7 linked regions of the Homo sapiens genome follow. The protein of the gene in region 1 interacts with the protein of each later gene in a biochemical or structural test. Each region holds a gene or a part of one and is shown in the gene's direction. Other genes may lie near its edges. The genes, in order: PDZD2, MMP24, MKNK1, CLDN10, CYTIP, ARHGEF16 and SLC5A12.

Region 1 (3,500 bases):
GAAGGGCCTCCATTTAGGCCACAGAACGCCGTTTTGTTGTTGTTGTTGTTGTTGTTGTTTTCTGAGACGGAGTTTCGCTCTTTTTGCCCAGGCTGCAGTGCAATGGCACATTCTCGGCTCACTGCAACCTCCACCTCCCAGGTTCAAGCAATTCTCCTGCCTCAGCCTCCCAAGTAGCTGGGATTACAGGTGCCCACCCCCATGCCCAGCTAATTTTTTTTTTTTTTTTTTTTTTTTTAGTAGAGATGGGGTTTCACCATGTTGGCCAGGCTGGTCTCGAACTCCTGACCTCAGGTGATCCACCCGCCTCCGCCTCCCAAAGTGCTGGGATTACAAGCATGCGCCACCACGCCCAGCTTTCTGAAAAAGAAAAAAATATTTGAGGTTGTTTATAATTTTCTAGTTTTTAATAATTGAGGGGCTGCTTTCTTATATTATCCCTTTTATCTCCCCTACAACCTCTCCTGTGTATGTACCTTCTGTTTACGTTCCCCACGTAGAACTGGACAGCTCCTCAGACCTCATCTCTTCCCCAGGGAAGAAGGGGGCCGCTCATCCTGACCCCAGCAAGACCTCTGTAGACACAGGGCAAGTCAGTCGGCCAGAGAATCCCAGCCAGCCTGCATCGCCCAGGGTCACCAAGTGCAAGGCCAGGTCTCCAGTCAGGCTCCCCCATGAGGGCAGCCCCTCCCCGGGGGAGAAAGCAGCGGCTCCCCCTGACTACAGCAAGACTCGATCAGCATCGGAAACCAGCACACCCCACAATACCAGGAGGGTGGCTGCCCTCAGGGGAGCGGGACCTGGAGCAGAGGGAATGACACCAGCTGGTGCTGTCCTGCCAGGAGACCCCCTCACATCCCAGGAGCAGAGACAGGGAGCTCCAGGTAACCACAGTAAGGCTCTGGAAATGACAGGAATCCATGCACCTGAAAGCTCCCAGGAGCCTTCCCTGCTGGAGGGAGCAGATTCTGTGTCCTCAAGGGCACCGCAGGCCAGCCTCTCCATGCTGCCATCCACTGACAACACCAAAGAAGCATGTGGCCATGTCTCGGGGCACTGCTGCCCAGGGGGGAGTAGAGAGAGCCCTGTGACGGACATTGACAGCTTCATCAAGGAGCTGGATGCTTCTGCAGCAAGGTCTCCGTCTTCCCAGACGGGGGACAGTGGCTCTCAGGAGGGCAGTGCTCAGGGCCACCCACCAGCCGGGGCTGGAGGTGGGAGCTCCTGCCGTGCCGAACCAGTCCCGGGGGGCCAGACCTCCTCCCCGAGGAGGGCCTGGGCTGCTGGTGCCCCCGCCTACCCACAATGGGCCTCCCAGCCTTCGGTTTTAGATTCAATTAATCCCGACAAACATTTTACTGTGAACAAAAACTTTCTGAGCAACTACTCTAGAAATTTTAGCAGTTTTCATGAAGACAGCACCTCCCTATCAGGCCTGGGTGACAGCACGGAGCCGTCTCTGTCATCCATGTATGGCGATGCTGAGGATTCTTCTTCTGACCCTGAGTCACTCACTGAAGCCCCACGAGCTTCTGCCAGGGACGGCTGGTCCCCTCCTCGTTCCCGTGTGTCTTTGCACAAGGAAGATCCTTCGGAGTCAGAAGAGGAACAGATTGAGATTTGTTCCACACGTGGCTGCCCCAATCCACCCTCGAGTCCTGCTCATCTTCCCACCCAGGCTGCCATCTGTCCTGCCTCAGCCAAAGTTCTGTCATTAAAATACAGCACTCCGAGAGAGTCGGTGGCCAGTCCCCGTGAGAAGGCCGCCTGCTTGCCAGGCTCATACACTTCAGGCCCAGACTCTTCCCAGCCATCATCACTCTTGGAGATGAGCTCTCAGGAGCATGAAACTCATGCGGACATAAGCACTTCACAGAACCACAGGCCCTCGTGTGCAGAAGAAACCACAGAAGTCACCAGCGCTAGCTCAGCCATGGAAAACAGTCCGCTGTCTAAAGTAGCCAGGCATTTTCACAGTCCGCCCATCATTCTCAGCTCCCCCAACATGGTAAATGGCTTGGAACATGACCTGCTAGATGACGAAACCCTGAATCAATACGAAACAAGCATTAATGCAGCTGCCAGTCTGTCCTCCTTCAGTGTGGATGTCCCTAAGAATGGAGAATCTGTTTTGGAAAACCTCCACATCTCTGAAAGTCAAGACCTGGATGACTTGCTACAGAAACCAAAAATGATCGCTAGGAGGCCCATCATGGCCTGGTTTAAAGAAATAAATAAACATAACCAAGGCACACATTTGAGGAGCAAAACCGAGAAGGAACAACCTCTAATGCCTGCCAGAAGTCCCGACTCCAAGATTCAGATGGTGAGTTCAAGCCAAAAAAAGGGCGTTACTGTGCCTCATAGCCCTCCTCAGCCGAAAACAAACCTGGAAAATAAGGACCTGTCTAAGAAGAGTCCGGCAGAAATGCTTCTGACTAATGGTCAGAAGGCAAAGTGTGGTCCGAAGCTGAAGAGGCTCAGCCTCAAGGGCAAGGCCAAAGTCAACTCTGAGGCCCCTGCTGCGAATGCTGTGAAGGCTGGGGGGACGGACCACAGGAAACCCTTGATCTCACCCCAGACCTCCCACAAAACACTTTCTAAGGCAGTGTCACAGCGGCTCCATGTAGCCGACCACGAGGACCCTGACAGAAACACCACAGCTGCCCCCAGGTCCCCCCAGTGTGTGCTGGAAAGCAAGCCACCTCTTGCCACCTCTGGGCCACTGAAACCCTCAGTGTCTGACACGAGCATCAGGACATTTGTCTCGCCCCTGACCTCTCCCAAGCCTGTTCCTGAGCAAGGCATGTGGAGCAGGTTCCACATGGCTGTCCTCTCTGAACCCGACAGAGGTTGCCCAACCACCCCTAAATCTCCTAAGTGTAGAGCAGAGGGCAGGGCGCCCCGTGCTGACTCCGGGCCGGTGAGTCCGGCAGCGTCTAGGAACGGCATGTCCGTGGCAGGGAACAGACAGAGTGAGCCGCGCCTGGCCAGCCATGTGGCAGCAGACACAGCCCAACCCAGGCCGACTGGCGAAAAAGGAGGCAACATAATGGCCAGCGATCGCCTCGAAAGAACAAACCAGCTGAAAATCGTGGAGATTTCTGCTGAAGCAGTGTCAGAGACTGTATGTGGTAACAAGCCAGCTGAAAGCGACAGACGGGGAGGGTGCTTGGCCCAGGGCAACTGTCAGGAGAAGAGTGAAATCAGGCTCTATCGCCAGGTCGCAGAATCATCCACAAGTCATCCATCCTCACTCCCATCTCATGCCTCCCAGGCAGAGCAGGAAATGTCACGATCATTCAGCATGGCAAAACTGGCGTCCTCCTCCTCCTCCCTTCAAACAGCCATTAGAAAGGCAGAATACTCCCAGGGAAAATCAAGCCTGATGTCAGACTCCCGAGGGGTGCCCAGAAACAGCATTCCAGGGGGCCCCTCGGGGGAGGACCATCTCTACTTCACCCCAAGGCCAGCGACCAGGACCTACTCCATGCCAGCCC
Region 2 (2,905 bases), on another chromosome or scaffold:
CCAGGAATGGGTGTGAGCAGCCCAGAGCCCTCTCTATCCACTTGGTCTGGCCAGCCAGGCCCTTCCTCACCAGGGTCTGAGGGGCAGCTCTGGCCAGTGCTCACCAGGGCCAGCAGGGCCCTAGGCTGGGGTCGTACAGCTGAAGTGGTGGGTGCATTGGCCTAGGCTGAGCGTGGGGCAGGGAATTATGGGGGCTGTGCCCCAGGGTGGGTGTCTGGCACCCAGCTGCCAGCCTTCTGTCCTGGGCAAACTACTCCCTACTTAAGGGAATAGGCCAGGCTCCATCCGGAGGCAGGGACCATGCCAGGAGGAGCCCCTGTGGTCACGGCATCCTGTGGTGTCCATGAGGTACCACAGCTCCACTCCTGGCTGGAACCCAGCACCCTCTGTGGGAAGCCAGCACTAGCTCTCATCCCCCATCCGGGAGATACCACCAGTCCTGGTCCCCTTTTGCCAACACCTGCTGGTCAGATGTCCCCCTACCCCCACCCCACTGTCCTCCAAGGCTACAGGACCCCTGCTTCTGACACAGTGAGCAACAAGCCTGGGTTTCCCTGCTGGCAGACGGCAGATCCCTCAGGAAACCTGCTCCACTTGTCAGGGTCTCTTCGGAGACCCAGGATTTAGGGTCACATGCTGCAGGCAGGGCTGTGGCCCAGCTGGGTCTGACAAGGACCCAGCTGTCACATCGTGAATATTTAAATGTCCTGTCACTACTGTCCCATTTTGCAAAGGCTGCTTGAGGCTTTAGGTGAACTAGAGGTGACTGTCTTGGTGATGAGGCCAGCATAGCGGCCCTCCCCCAGGCGACAAGGACCAAGGTGCTGCTAAGGCCACTCTAGCGCCCAGACACCCCAGTAGCTGAGCTCTGCTCCTATGGCTACAGAGCTGGGGCAGAAGCTGACCCCATTTCTGGAGGAAGATCCGAGTTTGTGACCGTCCTCCACTCCCCTCTATTGTCACTGTCCCCAGCTTTGCTCCAGTCTGTCACTTGCAGCCTGGAGCTCAGCCTCACCAGTTAGGTGAGGCAGAGATGGCTGCAGGGCCAACACTGGCAGAGCCTGGGAGTCCTTCGGAAGGGGACCAGGGCGTCTGAAGTGCTCAGTGCCCCCACTACTCTGAGGCCGACTCCAGCTACTCTGAGGCCGACTCAATCTCTCGGCTGGAAGCAGTGTTTTCCCAGAGCTTGGCCCTTGCTGACCTCGCTCACTGGGCCCATCTTCCCACACTGCTCTTAGAAGGACACCCCTACCGGTAGCAGCCCCAAGCTGAGGGGGCTCCCTTTTTGACCTTCACTGGCCCGCCCTTCACTGTCTCCAGCAGGAGTTCCTAGGGCTTGGCCTGCCTTGCTCCACAGTACGGCGGAGGCAGCCCTGCTTGTCACTGAGGAGCCCTAGACAAGGCCAATGGGTTCATCAATGCCCACTGGCTCTCTGCCAAAGCCAAAAAGGTGTCAGGCAGTCTCCAGCGTGCTGGCCGGGTCTCGGATGCCACCCCTGCTCACTGAGCCTGCATGGGCCTTGCCCCCGACCCTGTGGTCTCTGGGATTGGGGTCGGCTTACCCTGTAGCACAGACAGGGACTCCTGCTGCCCTGGGAGCTGTCTCAAGCAAAATCTCTTGTCCCAGAGGTGCCCATGTGGGTCCGCTGTGTCCCCTGTCATCATCCTTGTTTTTTCTCATTTTGGCCAAGGGCAGGCTCCCTGGGACAGGCAGGGAACAACTGCGGAGATATTAGTGATTCATAGGTTTGTACAGTGTTTTATACTTTGCAAAGCACTTTATTAGCTCACACCTGTCCACTCACATGAAACTCGTGTTAGGCCCTGGGAGGCCGACGGTAACTCTCACCGTGCCCTCAGATGAAGCACAGAGAGGTTGTTACTTGCCCGGGCCATCCAGTGGGCTGGCTGGGTCTTGTGTCCCCATCTGTGGACCCCTCTAGGGTCTGAGATGAGATGAGAAGTGTCTCCTGTATCCACCTCTTCCTGGCCTCCCTTCCCCCACTTCCTGGTCCCTGTCCACTCCTCAGGTTGGTGCTCTCACTTCTTGAAAGCTCTAGGCACCCCCGCCTCCCGCCAGGCTCCCCATTGGCTCCTGGCAGGCCAGCTGAGAATGAACAGGAGATGGAGGCAGGCAGCCCAGGCTGCAGAGGTGAGGGATGTGGGGCCAGGCCCAGAGGGCTCAGCCTAGAGGCTTCCAATCTCAGATTCTCCTGCCTGTGGTCATCTGTTTGTCCATCACCCCAGGACAGGGCAGACAGAGGGGCAAAGCACTGGGGGCCCCAGAGCCTAGCTTCCCCTCAGCCTGGGGGACATCACAGCATTTCAGTGTCAGTCACATTTTAAACTGATCAGCCTTTGTATAATGTTTTTTAAATCATTTCTAAATAAAACAGAAATACAGAGTGTGTCATTTCCCTGGGATGAGGGAACAAAGATCAGGTTCCAAGAGTAACCTTAGGACGCTCTGGGAAGAGAACCGGGTCCTTTGGGGTGTCTGGGAGCTGCCCACCCATCTCCTCTGCCAGACCGGCGGTCAGATAGCCTCCCTCTACAACAGGCTGGCCCTGGGGGCCCAGGGTTATTGGGGTTCCAGGAACACAGCCTGATGATGCCTCCTTACGATCCAGGATGGAGAGCAGCCCCCCCAGGAGTATGGGGAGGGTCACTGTGGCACGGGCTTCTCCATGACCTGGGACATGACCTGGGACACATAGTCAAGAGCACGGTTATCAGCAATACAGATATTAATAAAAGGCAGACGAAGTCAGGAGGTCAGCAACTTTGCGGGCTTACCAGGAGGCCTGTCCTGCCTCTGGAAGCCAGCGACAGAGAGGGATGCCCCCGACCCAGCCAGCCGGAGAAAGGGATGGGGTGGTCACGAAGGTCTGAGCTGGGTCTGGGT
Region 3 (3,500 bases), on another chromosome or scaffold:
TGTGACCTGTGGAGCCTGGGCGTGGTCCTCTACATCATGCTGAGTGGCTACCCACCCTTCGTGGGTCACTGCGGGGCCGACTGTGGCTGGGACCGGGGCGAGGTCTGCAGGGTGTGCCAGGTGAGTGCGGCCCCAGGGAGCACTGCGTAGACCCTGCTAGGGGTCAGTGTGGTTGGGGGATGCCAAGCAGGACTGGGCTGGGAGAGCGTTCCTGATCGGGATGGGGGCTCATAGTGCCCTCTCCCGCTCCTGTCACGGTGGCCACAAGGTAAAATAGAGATAATCAGACACTCCGCCCAGCTGGGAGTTCAGGGCAGGATTGTTAGAAGATCATGCCTGAACTGACTCTTTTTTTTTTTTTTTTTTTTTTTTTGAGATGGAGTCTCTCTCTGTCGCCCAGGCTGGAGTGCAATGGCACGATCTCGACTCACTGCAACCTCTGCCTCCTGGGTTCAAGCGATTCTCCTGCCTTAGGCCTCCCAAGTAGCTGGGACTACAGGCGCCGGCCACCACGTCTGGCTAATTTTTTATATTTTCAGTAGAGACGGGGTTTCATCGTGTTAGCCAGGATGGTCTCAATCTCCTGACCTTGTGATCCTCCCGCCTCGGCCTCCCAAAGTGCTGGGATTACAGGCGTGAGCCACCGCGCCCAGCCCTGAACTGACTCTTAAAGGGTGCATCCTGCCCTGCGGAAGAGGGACAAGAATCACAAGTAGAAGGAACAGCACGGGCATAGATGTGGGCACATGAAATAGCTGGAGTGTCTAGGAAGGAAGAGTGGAGTAGTAGGTCGGTGGTAGTGGGAGATGAGGCCTGAGAGGTTCACAGAGAGTCCTCTAGGAAGAGCCAAGGAATTTGGGCTTTGTTCTATGGGTGATCTCCACTCATCACCCATCCAGCCCACCAAGGGCATAGCCATCCTGGCCTGCCAAGGGCATTCTATATAGTTTGATCATCTAGGGGACAGTGCGGGGTGAGTCTGGGAAGAGGCCCCAGTCTGTGGCATCCCCAAGCCATGAGCTGCAGCTACAGCTGAGATCAATTGAAGCCGGTTGATCAAAACAATGACAGGCACATCCTGCCCATCCCTGGCAGTGTGGCCTCAGGAGGAATCTTTTGTACCTAGAACAAGCTGTTTGAAAGCATCCAGGAAGGCAAGTATGAGTTTCCTGACAAGGACTGGGCACACATCTCCAGTGAAGCCAAAGACCTCATCTCCAAGCTCCTGGTGCGAGATGCAAAGCAGAGACTTAGCGCCGCCCAAGTTCTGCAGCACCCATGGGTGCAGGGGGTGAGTGACTCCAGGGAGGGGTGTTTTCCACCACTTCAGGCCTGTGGCATGGCCACAAGGAAGCTGTCATGCCAGCAAGTGCTGAGCACCAGCCTTGTGGCTGGTGCAGCTGAAGAGGACAGCGTCTATCCCTGAGTGTGTAGAGTGAATCGACTCCTCCTGTTACCCCAGACTGAGCCCCTTATAGGCCATAGAGTTGGCTGTAAACTTGGCCACAGACTAAGCCCCAACAGAGTCCTCTGGGGATTTGGTACATGCACCCAGCCCCGCAAGCATCCTATTGTCATTTGAAGTCTGTAGCATCCTCCTCTTATATAGAAGCATCATTAGCTGAGGACACCCAGAAGTGAGCAAGGCCGTGCTGCGCTGATTGTTGTGTGGCCGAGTTGGGGCACATAGGTTCTCCTCATGGTCTGGGAGTCTGGGTACAGCTGGCCTGAAAGGCAAATGATCGTATTTTTTCCCTAAGCTTAGAATTCATGTCTTCACTAGAAAACATTTTTAAAAATCCTCCTTGGCTACTCACAATACCTGACCTCTGCCCTCCAAGGGGTCTGCCAGATGCTCCCATGACTTTCTGGTCTCCTTGGTGTGCCAGGCTCTGGCCAGCCTCAGTGACCCTACCAGTGGAAGGAGGCAAGCATTGCCATCCTATGTTGCAGATGGGGACCCAGTTTGAGTGTCTAACTGGCTCATTCCCAGACCCATAAGTGAGCACCTGCCACATGCCAGAGGGACAAGTGAGACCCAGTCCCTGTCTCTGTGCTCTAGTGGAGAGAAGTAGACAAGGGGATAAGTTACAGCATGATAAAGGCTTCTGAAAAGTGCTAGGGGCACAAAGGGAGCAAGACCCCACTCCCCATCCCGGGCCTGAGACTGAGGCAGGAAGGTGGCAGGGAAGGGGAAATGTGCGTCACAGGGGAAGTGACCCTTGAGCTGGGTCCTGGGGGATGATTAGGACTTTGCCAGGCAAAGGGAAAGAGGGGCTCTCCATGCAGAAGCAGCTATGTTGGGGGCTGCGGCTGCAGATTGTACCTTTCTTGCTCTCTGCTTGGAAGGCCTGACCCTGCAAGCAAGCATAGCCATTTCCCTGTGCTGCGCCAGCAGCCTATAGTAACCTACCCACTGCTGGCTTGGGTGGGGCAGTTCTTGAAAGGAGGGAGCAGTGCTTTACCTACACATCTGTCCTTCCCATTCTAGCAAGCTCCAGAAAAGGGACTCCCCACGCCGCAAGTCCTCCAGAGGTAAATGCTCTGACCACCCCCACGCCATGCTCTTCCTCAAGCTCTCAGCCACCATGGGGGTGGGGGCCGGGGGAGCCCATCTCTAGGCTCAGGTAGCTTTCTCCAAAGGGGCTCCCTGCCCATTTCCCCTCCTCACTCTCTTTTCCTCTACTCTGGATCTATCTCCCACCCTTCCCTTCCTTCACCTAGATTGGATCCTCTGCCCTCCAGCACCTTAAGGCCCCTCCTAGCACTGTTGGCAGGAAAAAAAACCTGTTTTGCCCATTGAACTGTAACTTACAGCCCAAAGACAGACCTTACCCATGGGTTATTCACACAAGGCTTCCCTCTGCCCTTGTATTTAATGAAAGGAGCAGAAGTGAGGGGCACGTACGGTACTAGACGGACAGTGATAATAGTGGCCACCAGGATTAAGTCCTTACCATGGCCAGGCATGGTGGCAGGTGCTGTAATGCCAGCTACTTGGGAGGCTGAGGCAGGAGAATCGCTTGAATCCAGCAGACGGAGGTTGCAGTGAGCTGCGATCACGCCACTGCACTCCATCCTGGGCAACAGAGCAAGCATCTGTCTCAAAAAAAATAGTAAGTCCTTACCACATGTCAGACGTGGTGCTAAGGGCTGGATATAATTATATCCATAATCTTCACGATGAATTTAAGAGAGGTGTTCTAGATGAGAGAGGTGAGGAGTGGCAATCAAGTTAACTTGCTTAAGGCCACACAGCAGCCCTGGGCTGTTTGACTCTGGAGCCCTTTTACAGCTGGACTGCCCTGTTCCCAAAGAGCCAGGGCTAAGCAGTGTGGGAAACCTTTTTGGCACCAGCCTCATGGCCAGCTTTTAGGAGCTACACAAGGAAGTCATACACCTCCATAATCGCAATTCGTGTGACCCAGTTGCTATTGCCCAATTTGGGTTCCTACCTGACTCTCTAGAGCAGCCTCCAGATGCCTTTAGATGCCAAACCT
Region 4 (3,500 bases), on another chromosome or scaffold:
TGAAAATGGCTTATGTGGTAAAAGCTTATTAGTTTAAACCCTGTTAATGTAAAAACCTGGACAAAAGCCACACTGAAGTTTACCGTGTACCCTGGCTGTGCAAATAAAAATACATGACTAAGAACATGAATAGCACAGGAAGGATGAACAAACGAACTGACAGAACATACTCGTTAGGGTACTTTAAAGGCATTCATTTATAAAAGAACAGTTGACTTAATCACTATAAATTACTCTTCTACAAAATAGTGCTTTTTAAAACCCAGTTTTATTATATACACCCTGAAAACAATAGTACTTCACTAAAGTATTCCCTTAGACCCCCCATGGTTCATGATGATATTCCAGTTAGTCTGCTATTAATAAGCGTCCACTAATATTGGAAGGTTTGACCCTTTGGATCTCTTTCTGCCACCCAGTTATAAATCTTATCATTTGATAATGTCAAAACCATTAAAACACCCTTTTAAAGTCCAATGAGCGGAGGAGCTACAGAGTTGTGATGGTGGCAGATGATGTTTTTTCACAGTGAAAGGCACCTTTCACTGTGGAATTTCACTATATGGAATTCGTAGTCTGATTTGGGATGGAATCCATGTCTGCCACTTTCTAACTCACCTCTGGTAAGTCACATAACCTTTGTGTGCCTCAGTTTCCTCACTGGTGAATATGGAAATAACACTCAGATCTATCCTGAGGATTCCCCATAAACCGCACTTCACAGTGTGTGACCTAGAATAGGCACTCCCTGTAGATTAACTTGCTTTCCTTTCTTGCTTGTCTTGCCACATGTTTTCACCATCACAGTTATCTTTTTGGAAAACAAACATCCAGAATGACAACGTAAAATGAGGATTTCTCCCTGGACAGCCACATGCTTTATGTAACGTAAATGACCTACTCTAATTGCAGGTTATATACAGGCATGTAGAGGACTTATGATCGCTGCTGTCAGCCTGGGCTTCTTTGGTTCCATATTTGCGCTCTTTGGAATGAAGTGTACCAAAGTCGGAGGCTCCGATAAAGCCAAAGCTAAAATTGCTTGTTTGGCTGGGATTGTATTCATACTGTCAGGTAAATAGTAACTTTCTTCCAAACAAGGTACTTGATGATGTTAATGAAATCACACTAACCATAGTGCTTTCCCTCTAATATTTGTTAGGGCTGTGCTCAATGACTGGATGTTCCCTATATGCAAACAAAATCACAACGGAATTCTTTGATCCTCTCTTTGTTGAGCAAAAGTAAGTACTCTTCTCAGTCTGTTTCCAGCTCACAGGAAGTGTATATAAATTAATATTCTCAACCAAGAGACATGAATTTCCTATATGACTTTTGAAAGTAAGACATACTGATAAATGGTAACTGATGACATCATTCAAGATTAAATGTGTCATATGCCACATACGCAAAATATGCATTTAATTAGTTTGCTAGTGTTGCAGTGTCTTGTCTCGAAACAGTTCAAGGCATCAAATTTAGAACTATAAACTTCATCGTTTGCTGTACATCATGAAACTGAGGTCAAGTAGAGGAAACGTGAAAGGTGTCAGACGGAGAGGAAAGAATGATGCGGTGTGCGAATAGAAAATTAAAACCTTGCCTTGATTGTTGCCCACTCAAAATGATATTTGCCAGATGCTAGTTTCTGGGTCTTTTAAATTTGCTGTATTAACTACTGTCTTAACAAGCTCCTCCTAATAAACCTTTATAAAGAAACTGTATACGATGCAAGGTTTTTGAAAAATGCTGTAGGAGCACGGCACCTTTACCCAAATGTGGCTGGTCAGTCTTGCAGATGAATGCTTTGGAATTAACAGATCAGTTTGCTTGTTGGTGTTGTTTTTAAACTATGGGCTGTTGCTTTTTATAGTTTCCCTAGGCTTATTTCTTTGGATTGGGAAAACCCCAGGGATACCAAATCAGAATTAATATATTAAATATTTTGTCTTACCTAAGAATGTATCTACATCCCTCTTTAGGAAGCCTCACGTACGTGTGTGTGTATTGCTATCAATGAGGCTGGTAATTTTATTTTAGACTTCAGGTCAAATTTTATAGAATTTTTAAGAAGTATATTACTGAAATAGCTGGTCAGCTGGGCTTTACTTTTTTTCTGGTGGTTTTAGGAATCTTCAGGAAATTGATTTTCTAGTTCTGGCTTAAGTGTACCTTACGCATAAACAGTAAATGCTTATATCATGAAATAAAATGAAAATAATAGCTAGCGCATGTTGAGTCCCCACCAGGAGCCAAGCAGAGCACTGCAAATATTATTTTATTGTGTTATTTTATTTTATTCTTACAAACAACCTTATAAAGTAGGTCCTCTTGGTACTCTTTTTTTAAATTGAGGAAAGAGGCCAAGTGATGTGTTCAAGGGAACTTGGACCAAACTAGTAGGCTGATTGAACTGGGATTCAAACCAGGCAGTTGAACTTCAGAACACTGGCTCTTAAAAAGCATGATTTCTAATATTCCACTATTTTGTAATTTTTGTGACAATATGCTACATGTACTGTTCATCAAGAGGTTTCTTTCGTCCTTTTTTTTTTTTTTTTTAAGAGTTAGGGCCTCTTTCTGTCACTCAGGCTGGAGTGTGGTGGTGTGATCTTAGTTGACTGCAGCCTTGCGCTTCTGCACTCAAGTGATCCTCCCACCTCAGCCCCCCGAGTAGCTGGGACATATATGTGCCACCACAACCAGATAATTTTTTTTTTTTTTTTGAGATGGAGTTTTCGCTCTTGTTGCCCAAGCTGGAGTGCAGTGGTGCGATCTCGACTCACTGCAACCTCCATCTCCCAGGGTCAAGTGATTCTCTTGCCTCAGCCTCCTTAGTAGCTGGGATTACAGGCACGCACCACCATGCCCAGCTAATTTTTTTGTATTTTTAGTAGGGACAGGGCTTCACCATTTTGGCCAGGCTGGTCTCGAACTCCTGACCTCAGGTGATCCACCCGCCTCAGCCTCCCGAAGTGCTGGGATTACAGGTGTGAGCCACTGCGCCCGGCCCCGGATAATTTTTACATTTTTTAACGGAGACAGGTCTTGCTATGTTGCCCAGAGTTGTCTCCAGCTCCTGATCTTCAATGATCCTCCTCCCTCAGCCTCCCAAAGCACTGGGATTACAGGCATAAGCCACCATGCCCAGCCTTTTCTATACATTTAAAAATAGTTTTTATTCAGAAATGTTATTAAATGGGAAAGAAAAACAAATTTTATTAAATGGGTTTTAGACCTCAATATAACTTTTTTATCCCCTGCCTATAATACAAAAACATGTCCTAATTTATTAATTTTCTCCTACTTATCTTTCAAATGAGATTTGCACAGATGTACATGGCAGGAAACATTGAAATAAAAACCAAGGCTGTATTTCTGAAGCTTAGAAATATTTTAATGATATTTAAAAGAAATATTGTATTTAAATGATACATTTTTATTTTAGGGTTTGATATCATAAATATGCAGCAAACCTGTACTTCTCATGGTTTATTTTA
Region 5 (3,500 bases), on another chromosome or scaffold:
ACCTGATCAGATCGTCCGGAAACCTGCTAACGTAACTATCTGTCTAGTTCCCGTGGGGCTTCAAAATGTTATGTTTTCTCATAAAGCCTGATGAGTGAATAAATAGGCCTTTTGTTCAGCATTACAAGACGGAGTGAGGCAGTGCACCGGAGCTTTAGAGTGGGGTACAAACATTATCAGTTCCTTTTGTTTCTCAAGATTCCTCACACTTGAACATACTGTCAACATCTGAAGTCAGAGGACATCAATAGCCCAAACGTCTGTGTGGGAAGGATGGCCTTTACAAATGTATTTTTTTAATGTCAAATTCAATTAAACTGGCACACATTCTCTTTAAACTGGGAAGAACTGATCCAATTTTCATGGTTGATATAATCCTGTAGCTAAAACAAATCAAAGGTCAGAAGGGCTGAGTTTTTCCTCTTATGTGACAAGCCACCTGTTTTTCTCTTCTAGTGTTCCATTTGGAAGGAAGAATAGTCTGTTCAACCCTCCCCACCCTGAAACACACATACTCACACCACATGTTCCAAATGTTCCAAACTTCTTTTTTTTTTTTTTTTTTTTGAGACGGAGTCTCGCTCTGTCGCCCTGGATGGAGTGCAGTGGCGCGATCTTGGCTCACTGCAAGCTCTGCCTCCCAGGTTCACGCCATTCTCCTGCCTCAGCCTCCCTAGTAGCTGGGACTACAGGCGCCCACCACCATGCCCGGCTAATTTTTTGTATTTTTAGTAGAGACGGGGTTTCATCGTGTTAGCCAGGATGGTCTCAATCTCCTGACCTCATGATCCACCCGCCTCCGCCTCCCAAAGTGCTGGGATTACAGGCATGAGCCACCGCCCCTGGCCCCAAACTTCTTAATAGAACACTGGCTTTCCCAATTAGAGGTTTGACTGATTTTTCTACCATAACAATACTAGCACCTAATAAAATCTTATTAGGATAGTTAAATGATGAAATTCGCTCATTCATTAAAATCATATTTATTGAGCAAATACTATGTTTCCAGCTCTGTGATAGGCTCAGGAGAGACGAAGATAAAGACTCTCTTAGTACGTTAATAGTTATGGAAGGAAATGGCTCAGAAAAGCCTGAAATTTAAGTAATGTGTATATTTCAGTTATTGATAACTACTATGAGAAAAGTGCAAAACAGCAATGGCCTGTCATGCTAGGTAAGAAGGCTGCTAGTTTGGCTTAGATGTGTAAAGTGGTCTTTTCTAGGGAGGCGATATTTGAGTTGAGATCTAAATGAAGAGAAGGATGGTCAAATGAACTCCTCGTAAGAGCACTTCAGGCAAAGAGAGAGGTCTCTGAGTGCTCACAATGGGCTTGGCATGTACAAGGGAAAGAGAAAAAGACAGTATAATTGGTATTTGATGGATTAGAGAGGGTATAATAAGAAATGAAGCCAGAGAGTTGGCCTGGGGGCAGACCATGGATCTCTTTGGACATGCCAACAAGTTTGGGTTTTATTCTGATTGAGGTGGGTCATATATTGTGTCATTTATTCTTCACAGCCACCCATGAGGTTAATTTTATTCCTATTTATAGATGAAGTGCCTGAAGCTTAGAGGGGGCTTAGTTAAGGTCACATAACTGGTAAGTGATAGGGCTGGGGTTTGACCACCTGCTCTGGATGCCAGGATCTGTCCTTTTCAGCTACAGCTGCTCCTTGGAAGCTGCCAGTAGAAAATCTGCTGGATGCTTTTCAGTGATTCTGGTGTAAAACTTCAAAGGATGCTTTGGGTGTTTGTGAGAGCAGATTTGAAAGATGGTGGTGGTAACAAATTGGGTCCAACTCTATAGGTCCTGTGAGTTCAGGGTAAAGGATGAGGTGCTTTTGCTCTAGAGAACCCTGGATCCAAAGGAGAGGAACCGTGCAGAGTCTGAGGGGAACTGCTGGTAGTTAGAGTCAGAAAGCATGTTCCACATGGGTGAAGAGGGTAGACCACAGGTAAATAGGGGTTGTAGATGGAGGTAACTGTTGGAAATCCGGGAAAATGGGAGACAGTCTGTACAAATACTGAGGAAAATGGCCAAATCAATGGTTGCAGTTTTGCCCATACACATCTATTGCTTCAGCAGGTCAAACTGACATTCAATCCCAATGAAACAGATTCATATGGATTCCCACTATTTCTCAGAGAGTCAAGATCACCTTAAGGAGAAAACAGACAGTATATAGCTTGCTACCACCTGATTATTCCTGGCATGATGCTATTAGAAGTAGAAGACTGATCTCCACATTTAATGCTTTTACCATGCCTTGAAAAATTCCTTGCATCTTTATAGAGAGGTACAGCTTAATTACAAGAAGGAACTTGAACCAACACTTTAAAAATTGGTGTGTGATTCACAAATGAAATTTTTAAATCATATTCAGATTGATGGTTTAGTAGTCAAAATAAAAGCCTTTAACTTGAACACACAGAACAAATCAAATCACTCAGAATAGAACAAGTATTTTATTTTTAGAAATGTGTGTGGTGTGGGAAGAACAGAACACTGGTAAGTTGATAATTCTAGGATTAGAGTTTGTAAACTGAATGTTTTGAGATAAAGAATCATATGAAGGTTATTATGTCATAGTAGTTGTACTTCTGTTTCTTCTAGTACCAAAATTATAAGGAGATTTACAGAGGTAAAGGCTCCTAGAATCCTATGGAGGAAAGGATTTCTCCCTCTTTCAAGAAGTAGCATGTTAATTCCATGGTTGTGAAAGCCCCTAGAGCCTATTATTTCTGTTGTTGTGCCCCTTGTGTTCAGCATGGTTTCTAGAATCTGGTACATAGTAGATGCCCAATAAATATTTACCAAATGAGTGAGGTCATTCAGCCCATCCCCACAAGAACAGATTCTAGTAGAGAGCAGCCATCATTGTCACATAGTGACTTCTATAAAATAAGCTATAGTTTACAAATTAACTAGGATCCTTTCTTTTAGCCACCTTCTCAAGGGGAGTTTTCCCCCATTTTCTTTCTCTGTTATCAGAAGATTTGGCTTTGGTCCAGCTACTCGAAGTGCCATGAGAACTGTAACATTTGTATTTCGTTTTTAGTATAGTATGTGCTCAAAGTGTAGTACTCTGTAGTATGGTACTTATTTAAACGAATCACTCATGTTACTCACTCCCCACCTTCCTCTTCTTTTTTTTTTCCTTAAAACAGGATAGAGACTCTTAATGGAACAATGATTCTGAAAAGAACGGAGCTTGAAGCAAAGCTGCAGGTTTTAAAGGTAATTTAATTTAATGCAGTGAGGCACATTTTTCATCCTTGAATGTGTGAGTGGTAAAATAAAGATCTATTTGAGGAACTGAGATAGCCCTTGAAAAAGAAATGTCGTGGTGAATCTAAACTGCTGAATTATCAAGAGCCGCACAATTACCTTTGGAGGAATATCAAATTCTGCAAACCAGTGTAAATCACTTTCTTCCTTCCTCCTTCTGTGTGTCTATGAGGCTCAGAAAGGCAACAGGAAGGCATGCCACTTGAAGAA
Region 6 (3,500 bases), on another chromosome or scaffold:
GGACGAGGGCGGGGGCAGGTGCTGTGTGACCCAGATGAGTTCCTGAACCTTCCTGAGCCTTGGCTTCCCCATGTGGAAGCAAAGATCACAGCCGCCCTCTGGGCATCCTCTGGGCAGTGTCCACGGAAGGTGTGTGCCAGAGCGTCTTCTTCACTGGTTGCCGTCCCAGCTGCCTCCTCAGGCCCAGCTCCTGCCCAGACTGGGAGTGGCAGTGCCAGCCTCAGGAGACGCCAAGACCACCTGTCAGAATGTCCCATGGGCGTCCACTGCAGGCCGATGGTGGCTGAGGTGGGGTCCCCCATGTCCCCAGCACCAGCCACTGTCCTCGGTCACAGCTCTCTCTTGTGCCTACCTGAGACGCCCAGGACTCAGAAATGCCTCAGCACCTCTGCCGCAGGCCCCTGCACCCCAGCAGCTGGAAGGGCCCCAGCACTCTCTACACCCACCAGGCCCAGGCCCATGGGGCTCCGTTCATTCATTCACTGTTTATTTCATGCAGTCAGCAGACACTTCTGGGCACCTGCCACATGCTTGGTGCTGGGGTTCCAAAGTGAGCCCACGGGCATGGGCCTGGTTCTCAGAGGGCCTCCAGCGCAGGGAGAATGCCGAGGGCTGGGCTGAGGGCAGCTCGGGGGTGCTGGGAGCACAGAGGAGGGGGCTCCCCATGGCCTCGGGTCAGGGTAGGGTCCCGGAGGAAGGAGGGTTAGCGCAGAGGCAGACAGGAGGAGAGGACGGAGTCGGGGTGGGGGAGGCAACAGCTCCAGCCAGACCTGGAGGCCGAAGGGGGGCTGGGGGAGTCCTTGAGGTGGGGTGCGGGGCACGGGGCTGAGGGTGCCAGGCCAGGTACAGCTGGGAGCACCACACACTCCCAACCAGTAAGGGGAGTTTACAGGCCCCAACTCGTTCCGAGAAATCAGCCCCTTTCCTTCCGGGAACCAGCATACCTGTGGCGTCAGGAAAGTGTGGTGTCCCAGCCGAGGAGGGTGGGCTCCGAGTCGGGCACCTGAGCGTGGGGGCTTCCCAGGAGCCCAGCCCTCCCGTCACTTCTGCCATCCCGGCCTCCTGCTGGGGCCCCCAGACCCATGCTTGGGGCTGGACACTGGCCAATCCTTGCTCGTCTGTCCCACCAGGTCCTAGTCCCCAGGGGCCTGTGTCCTGCCCCACTGTCCCTTCACAGCCCTCTCCCAACCTCACCTGCCCTGCCACGGGCCTGCTCGAAACTCTTCTGAGCGTCCCCTCACGATGAGTTCAACCCTTCCTCCTCCTCCAAGCAGCCCTCAGTCACGTGTCCTGCCTGCTCTGAGCCCTCCTCCCACCTCTCTTGGCCTCTGCTTGGCGGCCGTGAGGCCCTGTGGAGCTGACATCTATTGGGCACAGCTTCGCATGTGGAGCCGAGAGGTCTCTGGGGTCCCAGGGCAGAATCGCCGTGGGCAACACCTGCCCCGGCTGACAGCTGCGGTTTCTGTGTCTCTCTTTTGTGCAGAAGACGCTGGGGAGGAAACGTGGGCACAAGGGTTCCTTCAAGGACGGTGAGTGTGGCTTCGGGAGGCACCGCGGGCTGGGCTCCAGTTGAAACTGGTCTCACTGGGGCACCCTGGGGTTCGGGTGGGCCTCAGTTTGGTGTCTCGGGGTCACCAAAGCTGCTTGACAGGGTCCTTCCAGAGGCTGAGGTCCCAGTGGCTGGTCTGTTCATGTAGCCCTGATGAGTCTAGAAAGGTCTAGAAAGTTCCCTTGGACTCTATTCTGTGTGTTCTGAAGGGCAGGGTACAGACAGAGCCCCCAGTCTTGCCCTGAACACCCCATGTGTGTGCTGGGCCCAGCCTACAGTGGCCGTGTTGGGGGACCAAGGCCAGATCAGAGGGCACCGGCCCCACACCGCGGGCTCTGCCCGGACTCTTCGAGGCTGAAGGGGAGCCATGTGTTGGGGCCTCCAGCATGGGTGGCGGTGGTGCACACTCAGCCTGCTCGGGGGAGATGAGAACATCCCACAGGGAGGTTGACATAGGGAGGTGCCTGCTACCTGGGTCCAAATGCCCGGGGGTGTAAAGAGATTAGAGGCAATGAAGCCCGGGGAGGGCTAAGGCCTCGAGTGCCCAGCTCCAGGCCTGAGGCTCCAAGACACAATGGCCCCTTCCAGCCCCCAGAAGCTTTGTGGACAGGCATGGGCCCAGGAGGGGGTACCCAGGTCTCCTCTACGGAAATCCCTGGGAAGTGTCCCCAGGAGGCAGCAGCGATGCCCCACGTCTCAGGGTAAGGCTGGTTGGGGGCTGCTGTGAGGGTTTGGAGGCACCCTGAGCCGGGACCAGCCCATTTCAGGTGGGACTTGTGGCATAGGAGAGGTCTTGGGACTGGTGCCCAGCCTGGGGCAGTCCCCTCCCAAAGCCTCCCTCTCCCACACAGCCGTGAGAGCCTGTGGGCCTAGAGGACTCAGCTGGCGGGTTGCAGGGAGGCGCAGCCTTTTGCAATCCCCCAGGGCCACAGGTTACCCTCCTTCTCTCTCTAGACCCCCAGCTCTACCAGGAGATCCAGGAGCGGGGCCTGAACACCAGCCAGGAGTCTGATGACGACATCCTCGATGAGTCCTCCAGCCCCGAGGGAACCCAGAAGGTGGACGCCACCATTGTGGTCAAGAGCTACCGGCCCGCCCAGGTCACCTGGAGCCAGCTCCCAGAGGTAGCGCCGGAGGGTGGGTGAGGCTGCCCCACAGAGGCAGGGAGAAGCCACAGTCCCCCTGCTGTTCCTTCCCCAAGCCCAGGCGGCTGGTCCCCAGCAGCAGCCCAGTCCTCCCAGGGAGGGTGGGCAGCCTTCCCAGAAGCCCCTCGGCTGTGGGTGGCAGACCTGGGGGTCTCCCTCCTGTGCCCTCAGAGTCACCCTGCCCATGCAGGGCCCTGCCGTCGTGCGTGCGAGGGCCAGCCCTGCTCAGACTACCCTTCAGGGAGCTGCGGGCGCCAGGAGTCCCTTCCCAGGGCCCCCGCCCCAGGAGAGGGCTGAATGATCTGCGTAGGGAGACAGCTGGGATGGGAGGGGCCGGGACTTGGAGCTGGGGCCAGGGCCAAGACACTCCTTCACTTTCCATATCTGAAATTGGGGGCCCGTCCCTGCCCTGCAGGGGTCTCAGTGGAGAGCGTGGCCCGGCATTGGTCCCCATGCTTGGGGGAGATGGCTGCTCCTACCCCAGGTGGACCGGCATGTGACCCGCACCCTGAGGCCCAAGGGAGGGGACCATGTGGCCGTGGGCGTGGCGGGCAGCGGGGAGGGCGGGCCCCCACCTGTGGTACAATGGGGCTCCTTGTTCGCCATTCAGAGGGGCTGGCACTGCAACCACCCACCACACACCATGGTGCTGCGTACCCTGGGACCCCGGCCAGGGCAGGCCCAGCGTGGGGTGAGGGCAGGCAGCGGGCAGCCTCCCCACAGATAGAAAGGCCTAGAAGTGCAGTCTTACTCTCCTGCTGGGAGCTGGGGGCGTGTGGTCTCCCTCTGTCGGGGATGGAGTCCAG
Region 7 (3,500 bases), on another chromosome or scaffold:
CTATGGTGTAGAGAGACGATTGTGGACTTTGAAATCTGAAATATTTGGGTTTGGATTTTGGTTTTATAATTTATTCCCTCTGTATCTTTGGACAAGTTAGTAAGTTGTAACTTCTTGAATTCTCAGAGCCCTTGATGGAAAAATGAGGAAATATATATATATATATGAATATATATACATATATATATGAATATATATACATATATATATGAATATATATACATATATATATGAATATATATACATATATATATATGAATATATATACATATATATAAAGTAGCACTACACGTGACTTTAATAAATGTTCACTCTCACATTCTAATTGTATGTAAGAGCAAGTCTAGAAAATATAGGATTTGTGTTATTTGTGTATCCTCAAAAGTACTTCATTTTTAGTAGCCCTTTTCTGATTATCATCAATATCTCCCCATACTGGCTCATTCCCTCTGAGTCCAGGCTTCTCAAACTGGCCAGATAATGTGGCAAATTGCATTCATGAAAGTCTCTCTCGGTCCGGCATATCTTCTCCTCTCCATTGTCCTTGTCAATCTTGAGGCTAGTCTTGTCTTTACAAAGTCCAGAAAAGTGAAATTATCTTATTTGTATTTTTTATTTCCTCCATTTTTCTATCTCTTTTCCTTTCTAATACAACCCATTCTATCCAAGCATCACTAGATTTATTTTTTCTGAAGCACCTTTCTGAACTCATTACTACCACATGGAGATGACTTAAATGATTCATGTGCTTATGGAATAAAACACAACCTTTTTATCCTGGAGCTAAATACCTGCCAAACTTAAAACTTTCCTGTGGTTTTAATGTTATTAACTATTGTTTTCCTTCTACTCTGAATTCTGTTTCTTCTCGTCTACCTATGCTTATCCCACTCTTTCCTACATTTGGGTCCTTAAGCTATTCCCTTTACATGAATATATTTTAGTGTTCATTTCCACTCTCCTAAAATCTGTTTATCTTTCAAGAGCCATACTAGTGTCTCCTATTCCTCCATAAAGTTCATTTTGACTCAGGTTCCAAATGGGCACTCCATTATTTTGCTTCCATTTGTCTTTGAGTTTCATTTTCTTTCCATAAATTTTATATCGAAGAATTTCAACCTATTCATGGTTCCCCATAAACCATGTTGATTCTTCCCTCCTGCCTATACTTACTGTATTCTCTTCTTAGAATGCTAATTCCTGGCCCTGACTACCCTCTTTGCTTGATTAACTACTAATTATTCTTTCAAAATGAGCTGAGGTATCATCTCACGCATTGGTCTGAATTTGATACTACTCTGAAGGCTGCCATAGTATTTTATACCTTTTCTACTGAGGCAAAACCAACCCATTTTATGATTGTCTATTAGCTCCTGTATGTAGACTTTGTGACTTTCTCATCTTTATATCACTAATGCTTGTCACAATTACTAGCACTAAATCTGGGCTTAATAAAAGTCTGAAGAATAAATAATACAAATGAAATTGTATTATTTGTATTAAGACACAATCCTCATTGTAATACTTATGATTCAGTATCAACATCGTTATATTTGTAATTCAGGAATGAATTGAATTGAGTGGAATACAAAGCACATCTTCTCTAAATATAATTTTTTAAATGACAAAAAGTTATGATTTAGGCTTTTGAGATGCCAGGCCCTAAAATGAATCCTGAGCAGTCCTCTACATCACTGTGGGTCTTTAGGATGCATGGAATTGGTGACATGTGCTGTTCTCCACAGACCTGGAATAGCTGATACCTGGTACTCGATCTCCTACCTTTACTACAGTGCAGTGGGCTGCTTAGGATGCATTGTTGCTGGAGTAATCATCAGCCTCATAACAGGTTGGTTATAATTCCTCCCTTTGGGACTAAAGAAGATATGGGCTCATGCATGCATTGGTGGACTGGCTGTCTGTCTTATTGCTTTGAATTCACGTTTCCCACAAAAACCCTTCTTCCCACAGAGATGTCTACTCTCTCAACGCTGACATACAAAGGCACCCTTCATTATTATATACCTGACTATTAATATATAAAACATATATTCACGGGAGGCTGAGGCAGGAGAATCGCTTGAACCCAGAAGGTGGAGGTTGCAGTGAGCTGAGATGGTGCCATTGCACTCCAGCTTGGGCAACAGAGCAAGGCTCCGTCTCAAAAAACCAAAAAAAACCCCAACCAAACAAAAAAACATATATTCAAACATTTCCCATATATTATTTAAAAAAAGATGCTTTGACACATGCCCCCCAGAGGCCTGAGTATGAAAAACCCTCTGTAATATAACAATCAGTAAATAAGGTTAAATATTCAGAGTGGTTCTTTTCCCTTCATCCCAGTAAGAGACAAGATTTTTGTCATCACCATCTTACTATCTCATGAAGTCAGCCTTTGCTAACTTACTAGAAAAGCAAAACACTGTTGTTTTTGCCTATGTTGTCCTTTGGAGGCTGCTTCTCTAGGGTCGTGGAGTTCTCTGCAGTGAGCAGCTTCACTGTAAGCCATTTTTAGCAAAGTGTCTACCATCCATACTTGCCCTTTTGATGTATTAATGTCCTTTTTGTTTCAAAGCCCATGAGGGGTTGGTAGTGGTGAGAGTGTGGGAGATAATGGGGTGGAATAAGTTCACTGTACTCTTGTCCCTCCACCTCCTTGGAGTATGTATTTTAGCTAAAAAATTTTAAGGTATTCTATTTTTCCATGACTATTATATACCAATGAACAATGGCCAACATTCTGACTCAACACAAAACCTGAATGGCAACATTTCTGGTGACTGTGTACTAGAGATGTTATATTGAAGCTCCAATGCCCTATTGTTCTGTGCATGATGTCACTAGCCATTCACTGAAATTTAAGAAGATCTTGGCTATGATAAAGAATAGACTATAAATCTTGTAACCCCAGTCTTTCACATAATAACAACTCTCTCAATGTCTTTATGTAAATGGTTTCAGGCAAAAGATTGTTTATTCATTTTGTTTAGATTTTGCCTTAGTACCCTGACATCTGTAACTCCTTCCTTGATGCTAGTGGGATATACCTAGACATTTCAGTTTAGTGATCGGTCACCACTAAGAAGACAACCAAGATTTCAGCTGCCTGAACATTTCCTTCTAAATCAGGAAATGTGTACACATGAAATCCAGTAGTTTGCCAGTCCATATTTTCCATGTGTGCACCAGAATTAGCATGCTCTTATGTTGATACAGCAGCACTTATATTAAATTTGATTGAAAATTCTTACACATTTTCAGCATGAATAACTCTTCCAGTATTAATCCCTTTGTTTTCTTTTTCTCCAAATAAGCCAGGTCTTAGTCAAATGCCCTTCAGGCCAAAAGCGAACACTCTAACAAAGTCTAATTATGCCTTCAAACATTTGGAAAAATTTTTGAACATGACCACCAGATGTTCTTGCCTCCTGGTCCCTGTCTTCCAAATGAGGCCTTAGGGCTAGCCTGATAACCTCAGGTCTGCTCACTAAGAGGCT

What was found.
Region 2: the proteins of PDZD2 (region 1) and MMP24 interact in a test that uses a peptide from one of them, tested with the Homo sapiens proteins (one large-scale study listed by IntAct).
Region 3: the proteins of PDZD2 (region 1) and MKNK1 interact in a test that uses a peptide from one of them, tested with the Homo sapiens proteins (one large-scale study listed by IntAct).
Region 4: the proteins of PDZD2 (region 1) and CLDN10 interact in a test that uses a peptide from one of them, tested with the Homo sapiens proteins (one large-scale study listed by IntAct).
Region 5: the proteins of PDZD2 (region 1) and CYTIP interact in a test that uses a peptide from one of them, tested with the Homo sapiens proteins (one large-scale study listed by IntAct).
Region 6: the proteins of PDZD2 (region 1) and ARHGEF16 interact in a test that uses a peptide from one of them, tested with the Homo sapiens proteins (one large-scale study listed by IntAct).
Region 7: the proteins of PDZD2 (region 1) and SLC5A12 interact in a test that uses a peptide from one of them, tested with the Homo sapiens proteins (one large-scale study listed by IntAct).

The regions. Positions count from the first base shown.
Region 1 is NC_000005.10:32,086,631-32,090,130, forward strand, and holds part of PDZD2 (PDZ domain-containing protein 2), read left to right. Parts: intron 1-500; coding exon 501-3,500.
Region 2 is NC_000020.11:35,274,594-35,277,498, forward strand, and holds the end of MMP24 (matrix metalloproteinase-24 preproprotein), read left to right. Parts: coding exon 1-16; 3' UTR 17-2,405; downstream 2,406-2,905. UniProt on the Homo sapiens protein: Metalloprotease that mediates cleavage of N-cadherin (CDH2) and acts as a regulator of neuro-immune interactions and neural stem cell quiescence.
Region 3 is NC_000001.11:46,559,269-46,562,768, reverse strand, and holds part of MKNK1 (MAP kinase-interacting serine/threonine-protein kinase 1), read left to right. Parts: coding exon 1-120; intron 121-1,095; coding exon of another isoform or gene 1,096-1,126; coding exon 1,127-1,291; intron 1,292-2,491; coding exon 2,492-2,535; intron 2,536-2,957; exon of another isoform or gene 2,958-3,099; intron 3,100-3,500. UniProt on the Homo sapiens protein: May play a role in the response to environmental stress and cytokines. Appears to regulate translation by phosphorylating EIF4E, thus increasing the affinity of this protein for the 7-methylguanosine-containing mRNA cap.
Region 4 is NC_000013.11:95,559,220-95,562,719, forward strand, and holds part of CLDN10 (claudin-10), read left to right. Parts: intron 1-912; coding exon 913-1,074; intron 1,075-1,162; coding exon 1,163-1,244; intron 1,245-3,500. UniProt on the Homo sapiens protein: Forms paracellular channels: polymerizes in tight junction strands with cation- and anion-selective channels through the strands, conveying epithelial permeability in a process known as paracellular tight junction permeability.
Region 5 is NC_000002.12:157,427,090-157,430,589, reverse strand, and holds part of CYTIP (cytohesin-interacting protein), read left to right. Parts: coding exon 1-31; intron 32-3,169; coding exon 3,170-3,239; intron 3,240-3,500. UniProt on the Homo sapiens protein: By its binding to cytohesin-1 (CYTH1), it modifies activation of ARFs by CYTH1 and its precise function may be to sequester CYTH1 in the cytoplasm.
Region 6 is NC_000001.11:3,464,665-3,468,164, forward strand, and holds part of ARHGEF16 (rho guanine nucleotide exchange factor 16), read left to right. Parts: intron 1-1,483; coding exon 1,484-1,529; intron 1,530-2,137; exon of another isoform or gene 2,138-2,250; intron 2,251-2,503; coding exon 2,504-2,673; exon of another isoform or gene 2,674-2,686; intron 2,687-3,500. UniProt on the Homo sapiens protein: Guanyl-nucleotide exchange factor of the RHOG GTPase stimulating the exchange of RHOG-associated GDP for GTP. May play a role in chemotactic cell migration by mediating the activation of RAC1 by EPHA2.
Region 7 is NC_000011.10:26,677,061-26,680,560, reverse strand, and holds part of SLC5A12 (sodium-coupled monocarboxylate transporter 2), read left to right. Parts: intron 1-1,745; coding exon 1,746-1,849; intron 1,850-3,500. UniProt on the Homo sapiens protein: Acts as an electroneutral and low-affinity sodium (Na(+))-dependent sodium-coupled solute transporter.